3 linked regions of the Homo sapiens genome follow. The protein of the gene in region 3 purifies or fractionates together with the protein of the main gene of each other region. This does not show direct contact. Each region holds a gene or a part of one and is shown on either strand. Other genes may lie near its edges.

Region 1 (8,463 bases), on a different chromosome or scaffold from region 3:
TGAAAAGAGAGTCAGAGAAGGGAGATAAGGGTGGGGCCGTTTTATAGGATTTGGGTAGATAAAGGAAAATTACAGTCAAAGGGGAGTTGTTCTCTGGCGGGCAGAGTGGGGGTTGCAAGATGCTCAGTGGGGGAGCTTTTTGAGCCAGGATGAGCCAGGAAAAGGACTTTCACAAGGTAATGTCATCAGTTAAGGCAAGGACTGGCCATTTTCACTTCTTTTGTGGTGGAATGTCATCAGTTAAGGCGGGGCAGGGCATATTCACTTCTTTTGTGATTCTTCAGTTATTTCAGGCCATCTGGGCGTATACGTGCAAATCACAGGGGATGTGATGGCTTGGCTTGGGCTCAGAGGCCTGACACAGACCTTTTTTTTTTTGAGACAGAGTCTTGCTCTGTCACCCAGGCTGGAGTGCAGTGGCACGATCTCAGCTCACTGCAAGCTCCGCCTTCTGGGTTCGTGCCATTCTCCTGCCTCAGCCTCCCGAGTAGGTGGGACTTCAGGTGCCCACCACCATGCCCAGCTAATTTTTTGTATTTTTAGTAGAGACGGGGTTTCACCTTGTTAGCCAGAATGGTCTCAATCTCCTGACCTTGTGATCCGCCCGCCTTGGCCTCCCAAAGTGCTGGGATTACAGGCATGAGCCACCCCGCCGGCGGACTGTAACATTATTATGCAGATGAAGCCTACAGGTAGCAAGCTTCAGAGATAATAGATTGTAAATGTTTCTTATCAAATTTAAAAAGATGCCAGAGGCCAGGCATGGTAGCTCATGCCTATAATTCCAGCACTTTGGGAGGCCGGAAAGCCGAAGTGGGTGGATCACCCGAGGTCAGGAGTTCAAAACCAGCCTGACCAACATGGTGAAACTCCATCTCTACTAAAAATACAAAAATTAGCTGGGTGTGCTGGCACATGCCTGTAATCCCAGCTACGAGGGAGGCTGAGGCAGGAACTACTAGGGAGACTGAGGCAGGAGAATCGCTTGAACCCAGGAGGCGGAGGTTGCAGTGAGCTGAGATGGCGCCATTGCACTCCAGCCTGGGCAACAAGAGTGAAACTCTGTCTCAAAAATAAATACATACGTACATACATACATACATATGTAAGATGCCAGATTCGGCTGGGCACAGTGGCTCCCACTTGTAATCCCAGCACTTTGGGAGGCTGAGGTAGGCAGATCACAGGGTTAGGAGTTTGAGACCAGCCTGGCCAACACAGTGAAACCCTGTCTTTACTGAAAATACAAAAAATTAGCCGGGCATGGTGGCAAGTGCCTGTAATCCCAGCTACTCAGGAGGCAGAGGCAGGACAATCGCTTGAACCCAGGAGGCGGAGGTTGCAGTAAGCTGAGATCACACAATTACACTCCAGCCTGGGTAACAGAGCAAGACTCTGTCTCAAAAAAAAAAAAAAAAAAAGCCAAATTCTTAGTGAAGTCTCTCCTGGATCAGGAAAAAGACCTAGAAATGGAAAGGGACTCTGGAGAATGTAGATTTTCCCCACAGGGACAGCTTTGCAGGGCCATTTCAAAGTATGTCAAATAAGTATATTTTAGGGTAAAATACATCAATATCTATCATGTGATACTAAAGTCAGGATAGTGTCTTTTTTTTTTGAGACAGAGTCTCACTCTGTCGCCCAAGCTGGAGTGCAGTGCTGCGATCCCAGCTTACTGCAACCTCCGCCTCCCAGATTCAAGCCTCAGCCTCCTGAATAGCTGGGGTTACAGGCACGCACCACCATGCCTCGCTAATTTTTGTATTTTATTTTATTTTATTTTTTTTTGTAGATGGAGTTTTGCTCTTGTCACCCAGGTTAGAGTGCAATGGCGCAATCTCGGCTCACTGTAACCTCCGCCTCCTGGGTTCAGGTGATTCTCCTGCCTCAGCCTCCTGAGTAGCTGGGACTACAGGCATGTACCACCATGACCCACTAATTTTTTTTTTTTTTTGAGATGGAGTCTCACTCTGTTGCTCAGGCTAGAGTGCAGTGGCGCAATCTCGGCTCACTGCAACCTTCCACGTCTTGGATTCAAGCAATTCTCCTGCCTCAGCCTCCTGAGTGTCTGGGATTACAGGCTTGTGCCACCACGCCCGGCCAATTTTTGTATTTTTATTAGAGACAGGGTTTCACCATGTTGGCCAGGCTGGTCTCGAACTCCTGACTTCAGGTGATCCGCCTGCCTTGGCCTCCCAAAGTGCTGGGATTACAGGCATGAGCCACCGCGCCCAGCCGAATTTGATGTCTTATTGCTACATTCTTGAATGTACTGCAAAAAAGTCTTAAGATCTCTGGCTTTTTTTTTTTTTTTTTTTTTGGAGACAGAGTCTTGCTCTGTCACCCAGGCTGGAGTGCAGTGGCGCAATCTCGGCTCATTGCAAGCTCCGCCTCCCAGGTTCACGCCATTCTCCTGCCTCAGCCTCCCGAGTAGCTGGGACTGCAGGCGCCTGCCACCACGCCCGGCTAATTTTTTGTATTTTTAGTAGAGATGGGGTTTTACCGTGTTAGCCAGGATGGTCTCCATCTCCTGGCCTCGTGATCCACCTGCCTCGGCCTCCCAAAGTGTTGGGATTACAGGCGTGAGCCACTGCGTCCGGCCCTTTTTTTTTGTTTTTTTTGAAACAGGGTCTTGCCCTGTCACTCACGCTGTAGTGCAGTGGCATAATTATGGTTCACTGCAACCTCAACCTCCTGTGATTAAGAGATCCTCTCACTTCAGACTCCCAAGTAGCTGAGACTATAGGCGCACACCGTTATGCCTGGCTAACGTTTGTATTTTCGTAGAAATGGGGTTTTGCCATGTTGCCCAGGCTGGTCTCAAACTCCTGGGTTCAAGTGATCTTCCCAACTCTGTCTCTCAAAGTGTTGGGATTATAGGCATGAGCCACCATGCCCAGCCTAAAATCTCTGTTGTAATGTTAATGCTGGTCAGTTGTGCCTCAATTCCAAAGGGAGGAGAGTATAATGAAACATGCCTAACTTCCACTTCCCATTATGGCCTGAACTATTATCATTGTTGAGGTTAACGTTGGAATGTCTTTGACTGGGAGGAAGGGTCCATTCAGATGGTTGGAGGGGATTAGAATTTTATTTTTAATTTACAGAGGGAAGAGCATAATCAAGGAAAGATTAGTATCTGCTGCAATCCCTCAGATCCTCTCCTCTCAGACCTCAGCTGGCAACTGGAAGCATTGAGATGGCTCCACTCTGGCTCCAGCACTAATGTCTGAGTAGCTGGAATGTCACTTTGTCTCTCTAGACCTCTGCTGCTGTAGCAATTCTGGTTTGAACTAGATGATCTTGTAATTCCCAGATGGGTTCTTCCTGCCTACTGCACAAACAAAATCAATTCAGAGACCATAGCATTGCAGAAAAGAACGAGTTTAACTGACACAAGACCTGCCATGCCACACAGGAGACAGGGTTATTACTCAATCAGTCTCACTGAAGGCTTGGAGGTCGGGGTTTTTCAAAGATAGTTTGGTAGGCAGGCGGCTAGGATATGGGTGCTACTGATTGCTTGGGAATGAAATCATAGTAGTGTGGAAAATGGCCCTCCTGCACTGAGTCTGCTTCTGGGTAGGGGTCACAGGACTGGTGGAGTCACACGTCAGTGTGGGGCCATTCCATAGTCACAAATGCAAAAGCCTGGAAGAGATAGCTCAAAAGATCAGTCTTACATTCCATGATAGTGATGTTAATTACAGGAGTAACTGGCAAAGTTGCAAATCTTGTGACTTCCAGAACAATGGCTGGTAATCCTTTAACTATGCCTACATCTTAGTAGAATTCAGGCCCCTCTCATCCTCCTAACTTGGTGGCCTTTCATTAGTTTTACAAGGGTGGTTTAGTTTTCAGGAAGGCGTATTCTAATTTAAAGTATAAGCTAAATTTATCCAAAAGTTACCTTGGCCCATGCCCAGGAATGAGTGAAGACAGCCAGCCTGTGAGGCTAGAAAGCAAGATGCAGTCAGCCATGTCAGATTTCTCTTACTGTCATAATTTTGCAAAGGCAGTTTCAATTTTTTTTTTTTTTTGAGATGGAGTCTCACTGTCTTACCAGGCTGGAGTGCAATGGTGCGCTCTCAGCTCACTGCAACCTCTGACTCCCTGGTTCAAGCGATTCTCCTGCCTCAGCCTCCTGAGTAGCTGGGATTACAGGCACGTGCCACCATGCCCAGCTAATTTTTTTGTATTTTTAGTAGAGACAGGGTTTCACCATGTTGTCCAGGATGGTCTCCATCTCCTGACCTCGTGATCCGCCCACCTTGGCCTCCCAAAGTGCTGGGATTACAGGCGTGAGCCACTGCGCCCGGCCTAAAAATATTTTTAGTAGTGACGGGGTTTCACCTCGTTGGCCAGACTGGTCTCGAACTCCTGAGCTCAGGTGATCTGCCCGCCTCGGCCTCCCAAAGTGCTGGGATTACAGGCGTGAGACACTGCACCCAGCCCATCTGTCGTTCTTCTCTCTAGACTGTGAGCTCCAAGAACGCAGCACTATTCCTGTAATGCATCTGTGCATGCTTTCCCTTGGTAGACCCTGGAACACAGCAGGTGAATGCTTCAAGGGACAGTCTCAACCCTGTGCACCCTGCCTTAGTGGCTACTGAATGCTTGCATGATTGCATTTGAACCTCACAACAGCCTGAGACGCTGCCAGCACTCAAAAAATTACCTGCCATCTCGCTGTTGAGAAGAGGGGCCTGAAAGAGGCGATCAAGCTGCAAACCCAGGCTCAGAAGCCAACTGCCTGGATTTAAGTTTAGCTCAATTCCTTACCAGATATTTGGCAAGCCACTTAATATTTCTCTCTCTCTCTTTTTTGAGACGGAGTTTTGCTCTTGTCGCCTGGGCTGGAGTGCAATGGCACGATCTGAGCTCACTGCAACCTCTGCCTCCTGGGTTCAAGTGATTCTCCTGGCTCAGCCTCCCAAGTAGCTGGGATTACAGGCGCCCACCACCACGCCCAGCTCTTTTTTGTATTTTTAGTAGACACAGGGTTTCACCACGTGTGCCAGACTGGTCTCAAACTCCTGACCTCAGGTGATCCACCCGCTTTGGCCTCCTAAAGTGCTGGGATTACAGGGCTGAGTCACAGAGCCCGGCCACGCCATTTAATCTCTCCAAGCCTCGTTTCCTCCACTGTACGATGGGGATAGCACCTACTTCAGAGATTGCTACGCCGAATAAAAGGAGCTGGCATATCATGCCTAACATATAACAAGCACGTGATAGAGGTCAGTGACTAGCTTTAGCCTCAGGCCAGCAGCCTCCCGCTCTCCCTACCCTGCGCGCCCCACGTGCCTCCTGTAAACAAGAGAACGCGCAGGCGCCGCAAACCAGCGCCCATTGGTCGGCGTGCCGTCGCCCCGCTGGAGGGAGGACTCAGGCCCCGCTGGCCGCGGGCTCGGTACCCGGTGGGTCGGTGGAGCGTCTGTTGGGTCCGGGCCGCCGGCTTCGCCCTCGCCATGGCGCCCTGGCTGCAGCTCCTGTCGCTGCTGGGGCTGCTCCCGGGCGCAGTGGCCGCCCCCGCCCAGCCCCGAGCCGCCAGCTTTCAGGCCTGGGGGCCGCCGTCCCCGGAGCTGCTGGCGCCCACCCGCTTCGCGCTGGAGATGTTCAACCGCGGCCGGGCTGCGGGGACGCGGGCCGTGCTGGGCCTTGTGCGCGGCCGCGTCCGCCGGGTGAGGACGCGCCGGGGGCGGGGGCGCCAGGCCCGGGTCCAAGGGATAGGAGCTTTGACCTAACATTGGGATGGGGCCTGCCCGCTGGACGAACCGATCTCTGGTGATGGGGAATGGGCAGCGCCGCACGGGCGGGGCCTTGGGCGCCGTCAAGGGCCGACTGTGCCCGCCTCACCTACTCCTCTCTCCAGGCGGGTCAGGGGTCGCTGTACTCCCTGGAGGCCACCCTGGAGGAGCCACCCTGCAACGACCCCATGGTGTGCCGGCTCCCCGTGTCCAAGAAAACCCTGGTGAGTGATGAGGCTCTTGGGGTTCCCCGCCCCGAGGCCGAGTAAAGCAGCAGTTGGATGATGACGGGTCAGGTCAAGACGCAGGGATCTGAGGTAGCTGCTGCCCCACCTTGAGCCACTTCCCAGGCCCCGAGGGCTGGAAACCAAGATGCTATGAAGGGGAGGATGCCCCGGTGCAGGCCGTGCCTCACTGTCCACTGTGATGGGGTGATTGCCTTAGGGGTGGCTCTCATCTGAGGAGCCTCCAGCTCCATCTTGGCCAGATCTTGCTCCCCAGATCCAGATCCAGGCCCCCAGAGCAGCTTCTTCCTCTCCCTCCAGCTCTGCAGCTTCCAAGTCCTGGATGAGCTCGGAAGACACGTGCTGCTGCGGAAGGACTGTGGCCCAGTGGACACCAAGGTTCCAGGTGCTGGGGAGCCCAAGTCAGCCTTCACTCAGGGCTCAGCCATGATTTCTTCTCTGTCCCAAAACCATCCAGACAACAGAAACGAGACTTTCAGCTCAGTCATTTCCCTGTTGAATGAGGATCCCCTGTCCCAGGTGAGGAGCCCTCAGCTTGAGGAGCCCTCAGCTTGAGGAGCCAGCCGCTGCCTCATCACCCTTCTCCCTTCCCTCTGGAGTGGGTTTCTCTGGTCAGCCTAAAGACTGGTCTGCCTATCCAGGACTTGCCTGTGAAGATGGCTTCAATCTTCAAGAACTTTGTCATTACCTATAACCGGACATATGAGTCAAAGGAAGGTGAGGACCCAGCCTTGGCTGTACCTGTTCCTATCAGAACAGGACTTTCCCCCCAACTTGGCACCTTGGTGTGTGGGAGGAGAAAGACAAGAGGCAGTGTACCTGTTCAAGGACCCCATAATTCCTGAGCTCTCCCTAAGCCTTCCCAGCCTGGCAGCCACCCTGAGTACCTGGCCCCTTCTCCTACCTTATCTTCCCGCTCAGAAGCCATGGGTCTTGGCCGGGCGTGGTGGCTCACCTCTGTAATCGCAGTACTTTGGGAGGCCGAGGTGGGCAGATTACCTGAGGTCAGGAGTTCAAGACCAGCCTGGCCAACATGGTGAAACCCCATCTCTACTAAAAAAAAAGTACAAAAATTAGCCAGGTGTGGTGGCGCACACCTGTATACCAGCTACTCGGGAGGCTGAGGCAGGAAAATCACTTGAACCTGGGAGGCGGAGGTTGCAGTGAGCAAAGATTGTGCCACTGCACTCCAGCATGGGTGACAAGCGAAAACTCTGTCTCAAAAAAAAAAAAAAGAAGCTCTGCATCTCCATCACTCTGGCAGGGTGGGATGGGGCAGAGGCTGGATTTTTTGTGCTGGAGAGTCCTTGACAACATGGCCTTTCCCCACCACCTCTTGTGGGTGGTGTCCTTTAGACCCCATTTACTGCTTTTGCACCTGGGAAGTCATCACTTCAGTTTGGCCCTAAAAGTTGATCAGACCTCCCACTCCATCACTTGCATGTCTGGCCCCCACCCCTACCTGCTCCCCGGGGAAACCCCTGCCTGCTAGCCCCAATTGCCCTTCCTTTTATCTGCCTGGGGTCGAACCCCTCCTCTTCTGCTCCTTGGTCCTCAGAAGCCCGGTGGCGCCTGTCCGTCTTTGTCAATAACATGGTGCGAGCACAGAAGATCCAGGCCCTGGACCGTGGCACAGCTCAGTATGGAGTCACCAAGTTCAGTGATCTCACAGGTAGGGATAGTGGCCACAGTCCTCATGGATCCAGGAAGAGACAGGACCTTGCTCGCAAGGCCTCTGGTCAGGTCTGGCTTAGAACACTCTTCCTCCCCATGCCCTGCCCACCTTTGCCCGCAGAGGAGGAGTTCCGCACTATCTACCTGAATACTCTCCTGAGGAAAGAGCCTGGCAACAAGATGAAGCAAGCCAAGTCTGTGGGTGACCTCGCCCCACCTGAATGGGACTGGAGGAGTAAGGGGGCTGTCACAAAAGTCAAAGACCAGGTTGGACCCCTGGAAGTGAGGGTGGGACATGGGCACTGCACTGGGGCTGACGAAGGGGCCCGGCTCTGACTCCAACTCCACCCATCTCTTGTAGGGCATGTGTGGCTCCTGCTGGGCCTTCTCAGTCACAGGCAATGTGGAGGGCCAGTGGTTTCTCAACCAGGGGACCCTGCTCTCCCTCTCTGAACAGGGTGAGCATCTCGCTCTACTCCTCTGTCCCCAGCCTAGCCCCTCAGGAGGGCTTCTTGGGACCAGCCTTCTGTCTCCTAGAGCTCTTGGACTGTGACAAGATGGACAAGGCCTGCATGGGCGGCTTGCCCTCCAATGCCTACTCGGCCATAAAGAATTTGGGTATGCATTAATGGGGTCAGGAGGGGCAACCGGAGCCACTTCTCCCTGTACAAGAAGTTACTTCATAATGGGGGGGAGACATGAGCATGAGAGTTACACAGAACTGGGTCCAGGTCTTAATGCTGACCCAGCCAGGCGTGGTGGCTCATGCCTGTAATTCCAACACTTTGGGAGGC
Region 2 (8,493 bases), on a different chromosome or scaffold from region 3:
CCCCCCACCCCGAGAAAGCCCTGGCAGGCCCGCCCAGAAGACATTGAGCCCTCAGAAAGCCTTAGAACCCAACTGTAGTTCTGGCAGCAACTGTCCTCTGAACCAGGCTATGCAGCAAAGACAGGAGGTCAGTGACTCAGAACAGGCAGGGGATTCCTGGCCAGTGAGGGCTGCTGAGCAGGGGTGGACCCCAAAAGCACATTCACATAATACATCTCAGCCCACAGGGAATGGGACCATGCTAATTTCTATGCAATCACAGCGTGTTCTCCAAGGCACCTCAGCCGCCCCTCTCTTCTCTTGCTCCCTGGGAGGGTGTGGGTGTGTACGTGGGCTGCTTAGTAATGAGGACCAACTCCAGCCTGGGTGTGCTTTGTGATTCCATAGATGAAGGTTTGTGGACAGAATCTCTTTTTCTCTGCAGCATTTTTGAGTGGAAGAGTAGGAGAGAAGGAGGGACCCCGAGGTGATGGACAACAATGACCCCATAAGCAAAGGGATATTTCTGGTGAGCCCAGCTGTTTTTCCTAGAAAACCAACCAAGAGAAGAACTGCAGTTGTACAGTTGGGAAATAGGTTTGCCTCCGGATGGAACTTTCAGGTTTTAAGAGAACATTCCCATGGATTTGTATAATGCTTTCTGGCTTGTGAAGCTCTTTCATAGTCAGCATCTTGCAAGACATGAAATGCAAGGGACATTATTCCACTTTATAAAGGAGGAAACTGAGGCACCAAGAGATTTACCCAGGGATTATGTGACCAAATGATTAGTTTCTCCTTTGGGGGGATTCTTTTAGAAAAAATAAGAGAGGAAGGCCCTTTTCCTGACCCTTAGTGCTAGGAATAGAGCAAAAAAAAAAATAAGTCCTGAGCCTCAGCCTTCACCTTCCATGCCTGGAGCCCAGTTGTCCACACTCCCCTACCCCACCCCTCCTCTGAAGCCTTCTGACCTTGCAAATGCCAGAGCCTTGCAAACTGTTCCAGGGACCTATTTAAGTAGGTTTGGGACTGCAGTTGCCTGGGCTTCACAGAGAATATTCTTCTCCCAGAGCAACACACTAGATGGATGGAGGAGGGGAGGGAGGGTTAGGGAAAGAGGACGAGGTATACAGGGACATAAGCTCTGCTCGTGGGAGGTTTAGTGAGAAAGGAGCGAAATCCTGCCTTGTTTGATTTGGAGCCTTAACAGGCTTGCTACTGTTTAAAGTACACAGGAAAGTGGGATTTGTGAAGGGAGGAGAGGGGAGGGGAGGGGAGGGAAGGGTGACGTCTTTATGAATGGTACTGAGAACCCCGGAGCAGATGCCCTGTTCCTGTGTCCTGGGCTGCCAGCCCCGTTGCCTGGGCTGAGACCCACCACTCTGGCATCCCGCAGTCTCTCTCTTCCATTCACAGGACTTGGCCCACACACTCCAGGCTGGCCTGTCTGGACCAATCCCTTTGTTCCTAACAATGTAGGGGTTAAGGGGAGGCTGCTCTGCTGCTGGGGTTGCCTGACAGCATCTGCTGGATGAAGGTGAGGTACCTGGTAGGGAGACAGAAGGGACCACATTCCTGCCTGTCTATAGTGGCAAGCCTGGGCTCAGGGCAAGTGAAAGATGACATGCATCTTAGAGCAGAGACCAATCAACTTGGTGGTGGCATCAGTGGTCTCAGCTTTGGGAGCCAGGTACAAACCGGGCAACAGCCAGTGCACCATCCAAACATTGCCCTCTGACACTGGCAAGCAGGAGCACCCTTGGCTCCCAAGCACAGGTCCAGGCACACATCCTCCTGAGCCCACCTCCCAGCCGACTCAAGGCACCGTAAATATATGCATGCACACACTCTCAGGCAGCATTCCCATGCTAAACACTGATAGCTTGCCACCCCCCGCCTCTAAAGGGAACAGACTTGATGCTGAAAGCCTGCCAAAGTGTGGCTGGCTTCCAGCACCAAAAATACCTCCTGTGATCCGAGGGGCTACTGTACTGGCATCTATTTGTGGGGCTGGAGCTGCTGCTGTGACATAAAGGACTTCCCCTAGGGATGGGCTAGTTGCCCATTTGGGCCTGTGCTCCCCAAAGTCTAAGAGCTTGCTTTCCAGGGCCAAGGCCTGCTCCCAGCCTGGAAAATGCAGGTGGCAGCATCTTAGCCAAACCTGCCTTCCACAGGAGAAATATTCATTCTTCACAGGAAACATTCTGTGGCATTCCAGAATGTTGGTGCCCTGTCCTCTCCCACTTCTCTCATTCTCTTGCTTAAGTAACCCATCTAGTTACTTAGCTTGCTTCTTTGACAAGCAAAGAAGAGGCCTGGGGCCTGGAACAAGAATGCAGAAGTGACAAATGACTTTCAAGGTGAGGTTCCAGGAATATCTTGACTAGGGAAGGTAGGTAGGTTGGGGTGAGTGGAGAACCCTGTTGAGTGTGCTATGATTTTCCAATGATGAGGATTTGGCATAAGATAAACATTTCCCCATTCATTCATTTGTTCATTCATTTGATAAATATTTGTTAAATATCGACAGCCTGCTCACAAATATGTTGCACTACATCTATCCTTCCAGATGGAAATGAGGACGAACTACAAGGCCCTGACAGAGGACTGGTCAGTCCCAAGGGGCTGTGGGCCTGATATCAGATGGACAGAATGAGGAAGAATATAGTGAAGGGCAGAAACATACAAGAAAACCAGAAACCTCAGAAAGAGATAGATCTGAGGTTATAGAATCTGTAGGGTTATTGCCATGCTTTCTTTAAAAATATGTGCCAAAGCAGTAATTATGGACTGTATATAGTTCCATTAAAGGAAGAAATTTAGTAAATTTGCTCTTCATAAATATTTGCGTAATAAATGAATGAATACCCAGATCAAAGGGAGAAGGTTAACGAGCAGATGTAAAGACTAGAGGTTCAGGTATACCGCTGTTGCCTCAGAGGATGTCAAATCTAAATACGAACCATGAACCCAAGGTTTTGGTTTTTTTTTAAATTCTCAGAGCATGTTATGGTAATTAGATGTTTAGCTAATAAGATCCATATTTGTTCTAGCCTATTAGGACTAAATATAACAACAATCTTTCCATTTTGATGATACTATTACTTCTTCCAACACGCTTACATATATCTATTTTAATTCCCCCAGTTGTCTGGAGAGTGAAGACAGAAATTCCCATCTTACAGATGGACAAACTGTGGCCTAGAGAAGTTAGAGGTACTTCATCCACTGTACCTCCCAGTAGATCAAGTTAGCGCTCTTTCCATTGCTATGCTGACCACAGGCTCTTCCATAGTCTCACAGGACTCAGATCTTAGACCCTGTTCAGTGGCAATGTGGAATCTGGATGGCGTCGTGCCACCCTGTCAGCCACAATGTGTCCTCCCGCCTGTGTTCCCTCTTTCTCTCCCTTTATTCAGGAAAGAGAGGGGAGGTGTGGGGATAAAAGATGGGGTGAGTGGAAGAGTCTGTTTCATTTTATGCTTCCTTGCTCTTCATTCTAAGATTTATTTCTGGACCACAGGAGTGGAGGGTGGCATATGAGAAAATTATTTCAATTGTATCATAATCTTCCCAAGGTGTGATTAAATTGAGGCATAGGGAAGAGAGGTGACCTCTTCCAGAGTCAGACACCACTTGATTTAGAACCAGAGGGCCCTAATTTTCAGCTTGGAGCTTTATCAATTAGATATCTCCAATCCTACCACGGCTGGTCTTAGGTGTAGCTGGCCAAACTCCATGAACAAATGGAGGAAGTGTTCCAAAATCTTCTAGCATCTTCTTCAAATCATCTTTTTTAATAAATTGTGGTTTAGATTCAGTCTACCCAGAGATAAAACGATCGACTAGTCTGTCTGCATGGGGAGACAAGATCTACTTATAAAAATAAATAAATAATAACACAGGGTAAATATGATAATTTATTGGTGTGTTACCAACAATGAATGCTAAAGAAGTTTGAAGGAAAGAACAGGTATGGATCAGGCAACACAGCTTAGACAGATTCTTTGTGGTCCCACAGGACAAAACTAGCAGTAGCCAGTGAAAGTTACAGGAACACAAATTTCAGCTAATTACAATGAAGAACTTTTGAAGAATTCGCTGATTTCTGCAGATGTTGGAGTAAAGCCTAGATCCCCCAGTCCTGTGTTGAATGTGCGATTGTTCGAGATGACTGGTTAGTCTAGATTTCCTTTTCTTCTTCCTCTCTCTCTCTCTTTTCTCCGGCTCCCTTTCTTCATCCTTCCCTCCCTTCGTTTCTTCTGCCGCTACTGCTCTAAGAATTTGGTGCAATTGCTTTTAGGTATTCGCAGTGATTTTTGTTGTTTTTTAGATTTATACCACTGAGGACTGTGGCCACGAGAGGGCAGTAGAGGAAGCTTATCAGAATACTTGGACAGGAGTAAACTCGTGTGCGCTCTAATCGCGAGCAGGGACTACGCAGATCCTGCGAACTCGCTGGGGTCCAGCTTGCAGGCCGCTTCCGGAAAGCCGTGTCTAGAGGCTGCGGAGTTACTGAGACTGTGTGGCGAGGAATCAGTGGCCTTGAGGGCACCGAGACATTGTCATCCAGAATCCCGAAACCTCTCACCTTAGGTTATTAAAATAAGTTATCTTATTGCCACCCCTCTGATTACCCTGCCAGAAAGATTCTCTGAATTGGATATAGAAAGCTCTTCTCCCGTCCCCAATGCCCCCATGCAAGTCGGGACTTACCAGATGCCCAGGATCCCTATCAGGGCTGGAAGTTTGAGATTCAATTCAGAGCAAGGTTCATCTTCTCATTGCAATAATAATAATAACAACAACTTCAAGCCTTATTTGACAGCTTGTTGGCCTTTTTCTTTTTTTAATTTACAAGAAGAGGAAATTTGCTCCCACAAATTCCAAGACTCTAGTCTCAACCCTACCAGACAAGCCCCGTTCCTCCCCACTCACCCCTCACTCAAATTACAGATGAAGAGGGAGGTGTGCAGGATGTGTGCGGTGACAGGTGATGCGAATGGGGGGGATTCCCTGTCCCTACTGCCCTCACCCACTCTTCCTGTGTTCTGAGCTCCCCCCTAACCCCAACGCTAGACCTTCTATTCCCCCGGGGGCCAAGCCAGCTGGGCTCGCAAGGCCCGACTCGAATTCCCGGGCCCTGGCAGCATTTTCCTTGCCCCCTTGGCTACTTAAGGTGGCCGATGGGTCCGGGCTGAGCTGGGCGCAGGACAGGCAGCCGAGCGGCCTCCGGATGCCAAACCTGCTTCTCCTTTGTTGACAGCTTGCGGAGGAGGAAGTCCGCGCGGGCGGGGGAGGGGGCAGGGTGCTGGCGGTGGCGGGCGGTGCCAGCAGCGGGCGCGGCCCCAGCCCGGGCGGACGCGGCCGGCGGGGAGGGGGTTAACGCGCGCGGCCTCTATGATAATGAGCTGCATGGTGAAATAGGGAGGCCGGCGCTCAGGGCTCCTCCGCCGCCGCCGCCGCCGCCGCCGCCGCCGCCACCGCGGGAGCCAGAGCTGCCGGGAGGAGCGGCATCCGCGCCAGACTGGAGCGGGAGGGCGGCGGAGGGCAGTTGCTGGGAATTTTTCAGCCGAGAGGGCGAGCGATCCGGAGAGAGACCCCGAGAGCTTGGGAGCGGTAGGGCGTGCGAGCGCCGCAGCCAGCGGAGCAAACCTCGAAATAGATCTGGAAAGCCAGGCTCCCGGAGGAAATGGGACTGTGAACGAACCGGAGAGCAAGAAGGGAAGGAAGCGCCGGGATTGCTGATGTCAGAGGAGCCCGGAAAGTCGCGCTGGAAAAATCTGAAGACAGCCGGGGCTCTGCTTCTTCCTCAGGAGAGACACCGCCGGCCGCCCCCACACGCCCCCTCGGCGCCTCCGGGTGCCCCCTGAGAGCCGGCGACAGCGCCCAGCCGGGCTGCTGCGGGGCGACGGAGGACTGAGGGGCGCGCGGAGCGGAGACCGAGGAGCGACTTCAGGAATACAGATAAGTGTCTGGTGGCTTGACGTGGATTTTAATGAATTTGGACTCCATGTGGATTTGGTCGTCTCCCTGATTCCGAGCTGCGGGCAGGGAGAGGGGCCTCGCGCCGCCCTCAGCAGCCGGCGGCGGCCGAGGTAGACCGAGCGGGGACGGAAGGACAGACCGACGTCGCCGAGCTGGGTAAGCGGCGGCTGGGCCGGGCGCTCGGAGTCGGCAGCGCCCTCCGCCCTCTCCCCACAGGCGCGCACACCCGTGGCGGCTTCTCCCGCGCCCGCCTCTTTGGGGTCCCGGCCCCAGAAGACCCGGCTTGGCCGCGGCGGGCGAGTCCCCGCGTGGGCTCGGCCACTTTCGCGGGCTGGAGCGCGGCGTGCGCGCGATCGCAGGCTCACTGGAGCCGCTGCCTCCCGCCGAGGGCTTCCCGGCCGGCAGCCCGCCGGCTTCCCGAATGCGGGCTGAGGGCGGCAGCAGCGCTCCGCGGCGCGCCTCCACCGCGCACCTGCCGGCGCTCTGCGGCTTTGGGGAGCTCGGGGCGGCAAGGCTGTCCTGAGAGCTGGAGCCCAAAGAGGGCCTCGGTGGCACCAGCGAGACAGCCCAAAGCCACACTGGCCAGCGATCGATTTGGGGGCGTTCACTCCAGTGCCGGGGTCCCTGGTGGCCGCCGGCTCTCCCTTCCGATCGGGGACTGGAGATCAGGGGAATGGGAAAACATCATTTGCGCGGGTTCCATAAGGCTCAGGGAGAGATTCCTAGGCACTGAATGGGTCTAAGTGTTTCATCTCCCGGGGCTCCCTTTGCGGTGTATCGCCCAGCAGGGGTCCAGCCCCTTAGTTTGAGCACCACAGGAGTGCTGGGGGTTGAAATGGGAGTTTGCTTAGGGTCCCAGAGGCTCCTTATGAACCATTTGAGAATGTTTCCTTCCATGTGCTCTTTCTTGCCCCACCCCACAAGTGAGGTAGGGATCCTAGAAAATTCTAGCCCTTTTTATCCATCCCACAGGTAGTCTCTATAATGCCAATCATGGTCTAGATGCCCAGAGAGTCACCAGAAACTACCATTTTAGATCCCCGAAAAAAGTCCACCTGTTTGGAATGACCCTTGCCCTAGTGGGAGCTACCTACTCAAACTCAGCTCTGCTCAGGAGGGATAGAAATAATGGTGGGGAGGAAGTTGGATAAAAGATTTGGGGCTCTAGGTCAGTAAGGGTCTAGAAATGAGAGCCCCATGAAGTGGGCAATGGAAATCTGAACAGGTCCCCTGTAGGAATCTTAGAGTGACAGTGGCACACCAGTAGAAAGTGCACAAGGGACATGAAGGCAGCATCAGTTTGAGGGGACTGGGACTGCCAGTCATAGCTTGAGGCAGTCACTTGGGGGCCCATCAGTTTGGAAGAACCCACAGAAATTTGGGGGCACATTCATTTCCTTCCATTCACGCGCACAGTGGACAAGGCTTATGAGCGGCAGGCCAAGATGAGTATCTTGGCTGGCCTGGGCTGGAGGCTTTGAGAGCAGGAGTCAGGTTTAGCTCTCCCCTCTCCCCACACAATAGCAGTCTCCCTCCTTTGCTGGGCTTCTTTCCCAGATCTTGAAACTTCACTCTTCCCTCTGGGTTGGCTTTGGATTCTGGGGCCTTCTACTGATTGACAGAGCCCCAGGAAGAGATAACCTTGGCTGGAGGAATTCAGCTATTCCTAACTGAAATGCACAACTTTTATGCAATAACCCCAGAAAGCTCCCAGAGTTGCTTGCAGCCCTCTCCCCTCTGACCTCCAGGCAAGAAAAGAGAAGAATTCATTAACTTCCCTCTCTCTTCACGGAGCACCATTTGAACTAATTACCTGGGATCTCTCCTTGGTGGTGGCCTGGAGGCTGAAGGGGCAGTGAAGAGAAAGGGTAGGGAACCAAGGAAACAGTGGAATCTGTCATAGCGAGGTTGTTTTTCATTCCCCTTCTTCCACCTGGCATCACCACCAACCCCTCCTCATTCCAGAACTTGCCCCTGCTGCCACCAACCAGCATTACCTAAAGGAGCTATTTCCCTCCACTCCGCAGCCGATCGTCTTCAGGGACCTGCTGATAAAGGGAGGGCAATGCAGATTACCCTCTCTGCTCCCTCACTGTCCTCAGCAAATTGCATTAGGATGGGGGCAAACTGGCTTGCAAAGCAGTTAAATGGAAATGACATTTGGAGCGATGTGCAGGGAAGATGCTGAGGAGCAGCAGTGGTAAAGTACCAGGAGATCTCTATCCAGGGACCATGAGTCTGCCAAGGAAATCCCAGCTGGTCCTTCTTTTTGGCAGGGCATAAGGACAGGGGTCCCTCAAAGCCTGGAGCAGGACAGGGGGGCTGGCTAGCTTTTCAGCCCAAGTCTAAATGAAGAGTATGGCAGTGTCTTATGTCCATCGCCCAAAACCATGTCATTACAAGGTTGGTGGCCCCCCTTTCAGAGCTAGTCTGAATACCTATCCCTGTCTTCAGAGCACCAGGGAACATTCACCCTGCAACTCTCTTGACCATCAAAAGCTGCAGATGCGGTGAATGTAAAAGTTC
Region 3 (4,836 bases):
CATTTAAGGAATAACTAAATTAGGAATAGGAAGCCCTAAACTATGAAAAGCATGTAGAGCTGTGCCAGTGGAAGAGGACCCCACCCCCAGCCAGCACCAGGACATCCGCCCAGAGGGACATGGCTGGGGGTGTCGGAGAACATAGTCATGCACAAGACTACTTAGGGAGCCCTTAAGGGTATAAGATATGAGCTTTTGAATATGAGTTTTGAGAGCAACAGGCAACCCCTCTTCCATTGTCTCCTGATCAAGTGGCTTCTGTGGTGCCCAAACAAAGCAAGCATGATATTTCAATTTCCTGTTACAAAGAAAGAGAACTCTTGTTCTTTGAATTACAGAGGCTGCACAGACCTCTGAGCTTTGTGGACAGTTGTGCTCATGATAACTTTGCTGGTGTGTGGTGCAGTCATGAGCAGAAATGAAGTCAGTGTCACACAGTGAAACAGAATCTTCTATAGGATAACATAATAAACATTACCGGGTAAAAAAAATCTTGGGCGAGTTTGTGGATTTTTTTTTGTTAAATGCCTCCATGTTTAAATGAAAATCAGCTTTCCTAAGAAAAGTTTGCTTTATCTGAATTTTTTAAAAAGTCACGCATTTTCTAATAAAGTACATAGCAAATGGGAGATTGAAGATGTCCATTATGATAATAATACTTTAAGAGAAAATTGATTAATGAGGAACAATAGAAATGAAATTCTAAATTTTTTTGTCTATCTTTGTGACATTTGGGAAACAATGTGTTTAGTGGTAAAGACATAGCTGCTAAGTAGGAATGAATCTGTTGACAAATCATGTACCTTCTCATTAGCTTCCATTTCATCATCTGTAAAATAGGGATCATAAGTACCATTTGTCATGTTGGTTATAAGAAAAAAGTAAGATGTGTATTATATAAATGGATAGTGACAAACACAAATGGAAAATGTGTATTACATACATGGATAAATATAGAAACCAACAAACAAAAAATGATGTCAATCTCCTGGCCTTTTCCATCTCCACCTACTGGACATTTTGGCATTAAATTAAGAAAATAAAAATAAAAGAAACTAGAGGTTGGAAATCAGTTTTACTCTTTAAATAGAGTTTTTGTGGCCTACTTGTATCAACGAGTATAGGAATAAGCTACTCATTTAGTGGTGAATGCATAAACATTAAGAGGAAAAAATGATGTGCAAACAATAACTGTTATAATTATAAAAACTTTATTTCATTCTTACTTTAATTAAATCTTTATAAGCACCATGTCATGAGCTGGCAATCTAGAAAGAGGACACTGGAATGCTTTAGTCAATTACAAACTGCAAGCTGATGATGTGAAGTTACAGCTACGTGGAGCATGTGAACAAGACCACATTTAGAAAGGTTCACTTAAGAATCCCATGACAATGCGCAAAACAGGAATCTGGCATTGATTTGTTCACACTTTTTATAGTCAGAACGCAAAGCTTGTGCATGTAAACATCAAGAGAAACATTTTATCACCCTGACAGTTTACAGTTTGCTCAAATTTGACCCTGAAAGCATATATGTTGCCATCTTGTTTTCTTGACCAGTGCTGGGCCACAGGCTGAAAAACTCCATTCCTTTAAAATTTAAATGATGCTTAAAGGCTATGTTCAACATTGTGCAAGTTGTCAGCAAGGCCTTTTAATGTGTACATTTCTCATGTATGATCACCAAACCATTATTTACCTAATGAAATTGTGAAAAACTATACATATTCAGCAAAATGTTTTAATTTGGTCCTATATTAAAAGACCCAATTGCCAAGGGATTTTACACAAATTTAATTCACAAGCATGTACACAAGAGAATCACTATAAAGAACATTGCTTCCTGGTTTATGAATAAAAAGTTTATCTTCTACTTACACTAAAACATACAAAAAATAATCTACAAAAATCGTTTACAATTGATTTTAGCTAAAGAAAAAGCTTTCTTCAGGAAAAAAAAGATGATTGTGTGGTGGTAGTATTTTAGCCATCAAAAAAGGAATGTAAGTAACCAATAAATATAATGTGCTTTCTCCATATAGACATATTTACACTTGAGTCTTTGGCTTATGTTATTTTCTAAAAAGAACTTTAAATGATCCAGCCATCATTGCACATTAAAAGAAAATAAGCCAGTTATATATATTTATATATTTATATAGAGATCTGCTACACTGGAAACATATAAAAAACGAACTTTACTATGAATTTGCACAGCTTTTCTTTTCTTCTTCCTTTTAAGATTCATCAGCTTTCATTTTAGAAAGGGAGAAAAATGCCACGTAGAAAGTATGAACTCATGCAACATGTGGTAGCTGCTCTACTGAAACCATGAGAAAAAAGGTGGCATGTTCACTGTACAAACACCAATACGTTCTCATTTCAATCTGGTTCTTATTAAATATAATTTATGTGGCATGAAATGTTGATGCTTTAATATAGTAATAAAAACTAATTCAGTCCTTTTTATTAAGATACACAACTTCATAAAAAAAATACTTTTACCTCTCAAATGTAAAAGTCTCCCACCCCCCACATTAAAATCTTTCTGCACAAGTGTAACAGGTACAACAGCTGCTGGCTCAATAGATGGACAGGTTTCTTCATGGATGCACTTTAAAGAGTCTCACCCAACTAAGATGATTCCAGGTACTCCAAAGCTACATCATAGCAGAAACGGTATTGCTCCTGAAAGATGTCAAAACACAAAGAGTGAGAAAACTTAAGAAAGAGACTAATGTTGAATAACAGTTACCAAATGAAACTTGACAACCAATTTAGATTACTCAAGGATTACAATTTATTTTTTCTATATATGAGATTAATATCTAGGCATACATATTTTATACTTGAGTCTAATGATCCATTTAAGAAAAAGGAAATTTATCTTAAAAAGACATTTTATCTTTGCCGCATATTTTCTATCAATTTTTTAAATATCTATAATTTTTTATCTGTTTATAATAGTAATATTTGATCATTACAGAACAATTCTGTACAAATATAAAGAATATACACATTCTGAACAAACATAAAGAATGAGAAAAAGAGCTATAATTCTATCATCAGAAGAAATTGTTAAAATATCACCTTAGTTTGCCTCAGTTCTTTTTGTGCATGGTTGAAATAATTATCTTAGAATAAATATAACTATGTATATTTCAAAATATAATTTTAAATGTAACTTTTAAAATTTAACATTGTTACAATTCTTTTTCCATGTTATTTAACATCTTTTAATACCACATAAAAATCAAATATATGTATTGTTTGACTATTAAGTTGCTTTTATTTTTTTCTCTATTTTATAATGCTACAGTGATAAACTGCAAATGTTTTTCTCCATATATTTCAGATGATTTCCTTGAGAAAAAAAAAGCCAGCCATTTTAAACAGCCATTTATGCAATTTCAAGTTCTTAATTTTTGACACTGTTTTTGTCCATCAGAGTATTTAAGCAAATTTTTCAAGAATGGTTAGTGATCCTTAAATTTTGAGCCTACTTATACCTGAAAATGTATTTCTGCTGCCTTTATATGTTTAAGACAACATATTGGCAATAAAATTTTTGAGTTAAAACTGCCTTTCCTCTAAGCCCATCTATGGACTTGCTCCATAATAAGAATTTAGAAAAATTCAGAGACCATATCATAAACTATTACTTATAATATGCAATTCATTTAAAAATTCCCAACTCAGTTCATTCAAGTGGGTAAAATTCAGGCTGGAGAACAGTCTAAAATGCATATTATTTTGGAATAGAAGTTCGAGGTGTCTCCAGCAATAAACTAGGGTAATAAAACTTTCCTTAAGAGGTCTTTATCATTCCAACACTATTCACCAAGTAGTTATGATTCAAATTCACCTACCACTGTGGCGAGTGCATTCAAGGAACCAAAATGTGCCTAGAAATAGTTATGTCTCTTTAAGCAGTCTCCAGCAATATTGCCTTCACTCTAAATCTCCTCACCAAACTCCTCAGCTCAACTCCACAGCTCACTAAACTAATCATCAACACTGATTAAACACAAATCAGAGGGTGGGGTGTTCAGGATTCACGGGACATGAATGTAAAGGAAAATAGTAACTTTTTGGAAGGTCCCAGAATGGCACAGTTTAACCATAGATTTTTTTTTTAATTAAAAAAGGTGGGAAATCAGTTAAATTTGAAGGTAAAAGTTGAATTCTGAAGTCAGAAATGATCCCACTGATGATTTTAAGACTTGACCTGAAAAATGGAGGCAGAGTTTACATCAAGAAATCTTCAAATCGCAAAGTTTAGAGACATAACCACTATTCATTTAGTTGCTAAGACGATCTGAGAGTTCTCCCTCAAAAATCCCTCCGATTCATCCCCCCTTTCTCATCTCCATAGCCAGCACCCCAATCAAAACCAATGTAATCTTGTGTAGACAGCTGCAACAACCCAGGGAAATGAGGTGGTGTAGGGAGTTTGAGGACACCTGTAGAAAGGGTGGAAGTCTGGTACCGCTTGTAAAAGTGAAACAGTACAAACCTAAGTCTTCAGATTTTGTCTCAGGAAGCAACGCAACTCTTGTGCGAGCAATCCATGAGCAGGAAGTGGTGAAATACTTTAAAGGTTTATTGAATTGCTCATTCTAGTTATCTGATCATCTTGATAAATGTAGGGCAAGCAACAATGATGCCTTGGTTTTTCTGGTTTACTTTTCTGTGAGCATACACTACACAGCTGCTCCCAACCTGATCCCACCATGCACATACATATGTGTAACCCACAGATATCTCTCGTTAGAAGTAAAATGTGTTAGATAAGTGTAACTTTCTTTCTTACTCTGCATACAGCTTCACCTAG

Evidence for each region. The genes of interacting proteins can lie anywhere in the genome.
Region 1: the proteins of PTPRK (region 3) and CTSF purify together in Homo sapiens (affinity purification with mass spectrometry; 3 studies listed by BioGRID and IntAct, with this or other methods). This does not show direct contact.
Region 2: the proteins of PTPRK (region 3) and PLXNA2 purify together in Homo sapiens (affinity purification with mass spectrometry; 3 studies listed by BioGRID and IntAct, with this or other methods). This does not show direct contact.

What each region holds. Positions count from the first base shown.
Region 1 is NC_000011.10:66,565,495-66,573,957, reverse strand, and holds the start of CTSF (cathepsin F precursor), read left to right. Parts: upstream 1-5,351; 5' UTR 5,352-5,471; coding exon 5,472-5,684; exon of another isoform or gene 5,685-5,754; coding exon of another isoform or gene 5,755-5,787; intron 5,788-5,875; coding exon 5,876-5,974; intron 5,975-6,295; coding exon 6,296-6,514; intron 6,515-6,636; coding exon 6,637-6,712; intron 6,713-7,553; coding exon 7,554-7,667; intron 7,668-7,790; coding exon 7,791-7,936; intron 7,937-8,030; coding exon 8,031-8,127; intron 8,128-8,206; coding exon 8,207-8,287; intron 8,288-8,463. UniProt on the Homo sapiens protein: Thiol protease which is believed to participate in intracellular degradation and turnover of proteins. Has also been implicated in tumor invasion and metastasis.
Region 2 is NC_000001.11:208,241,273-208,249,765, reverse strand, and holds the start of PLXNA2 (plexin-A2 precursor), read left to right. Parts: upstream 1-5,381; 5' UTR 5,382-6,123; intron 6,124-8,493. UniProt on the Homo sapiens protein: Coreceptor for SEMA3A and SEMA6A. Necessary for signaling by SEMA6A and class 3 semaphorins and subsequent remodeling of the cytoskeleton. Plays a role in axon guidance, invasive growth and cell migration.
Region 3 is NC_000006.12:127,967,591-127,972,426, forward strand, and holds the end of PTPRK (receptor-type tyrosine-protein phosphatase kappa isoform b precursor), read right to left. Parts: intron 2,691-4,836; coding exon 2,637-2,690; 3' UTR 1,195-2,636; downstream 1-1,194. UniProt on the Homo sapiens protein: Regulation of processes involving cell contact and adhesion such as growth control, tumor invasion, and metastasis. Negative regulator of EGFR signaling pathway. Forms complexes with beta-catenin and gamma-catenin/plakoglobin.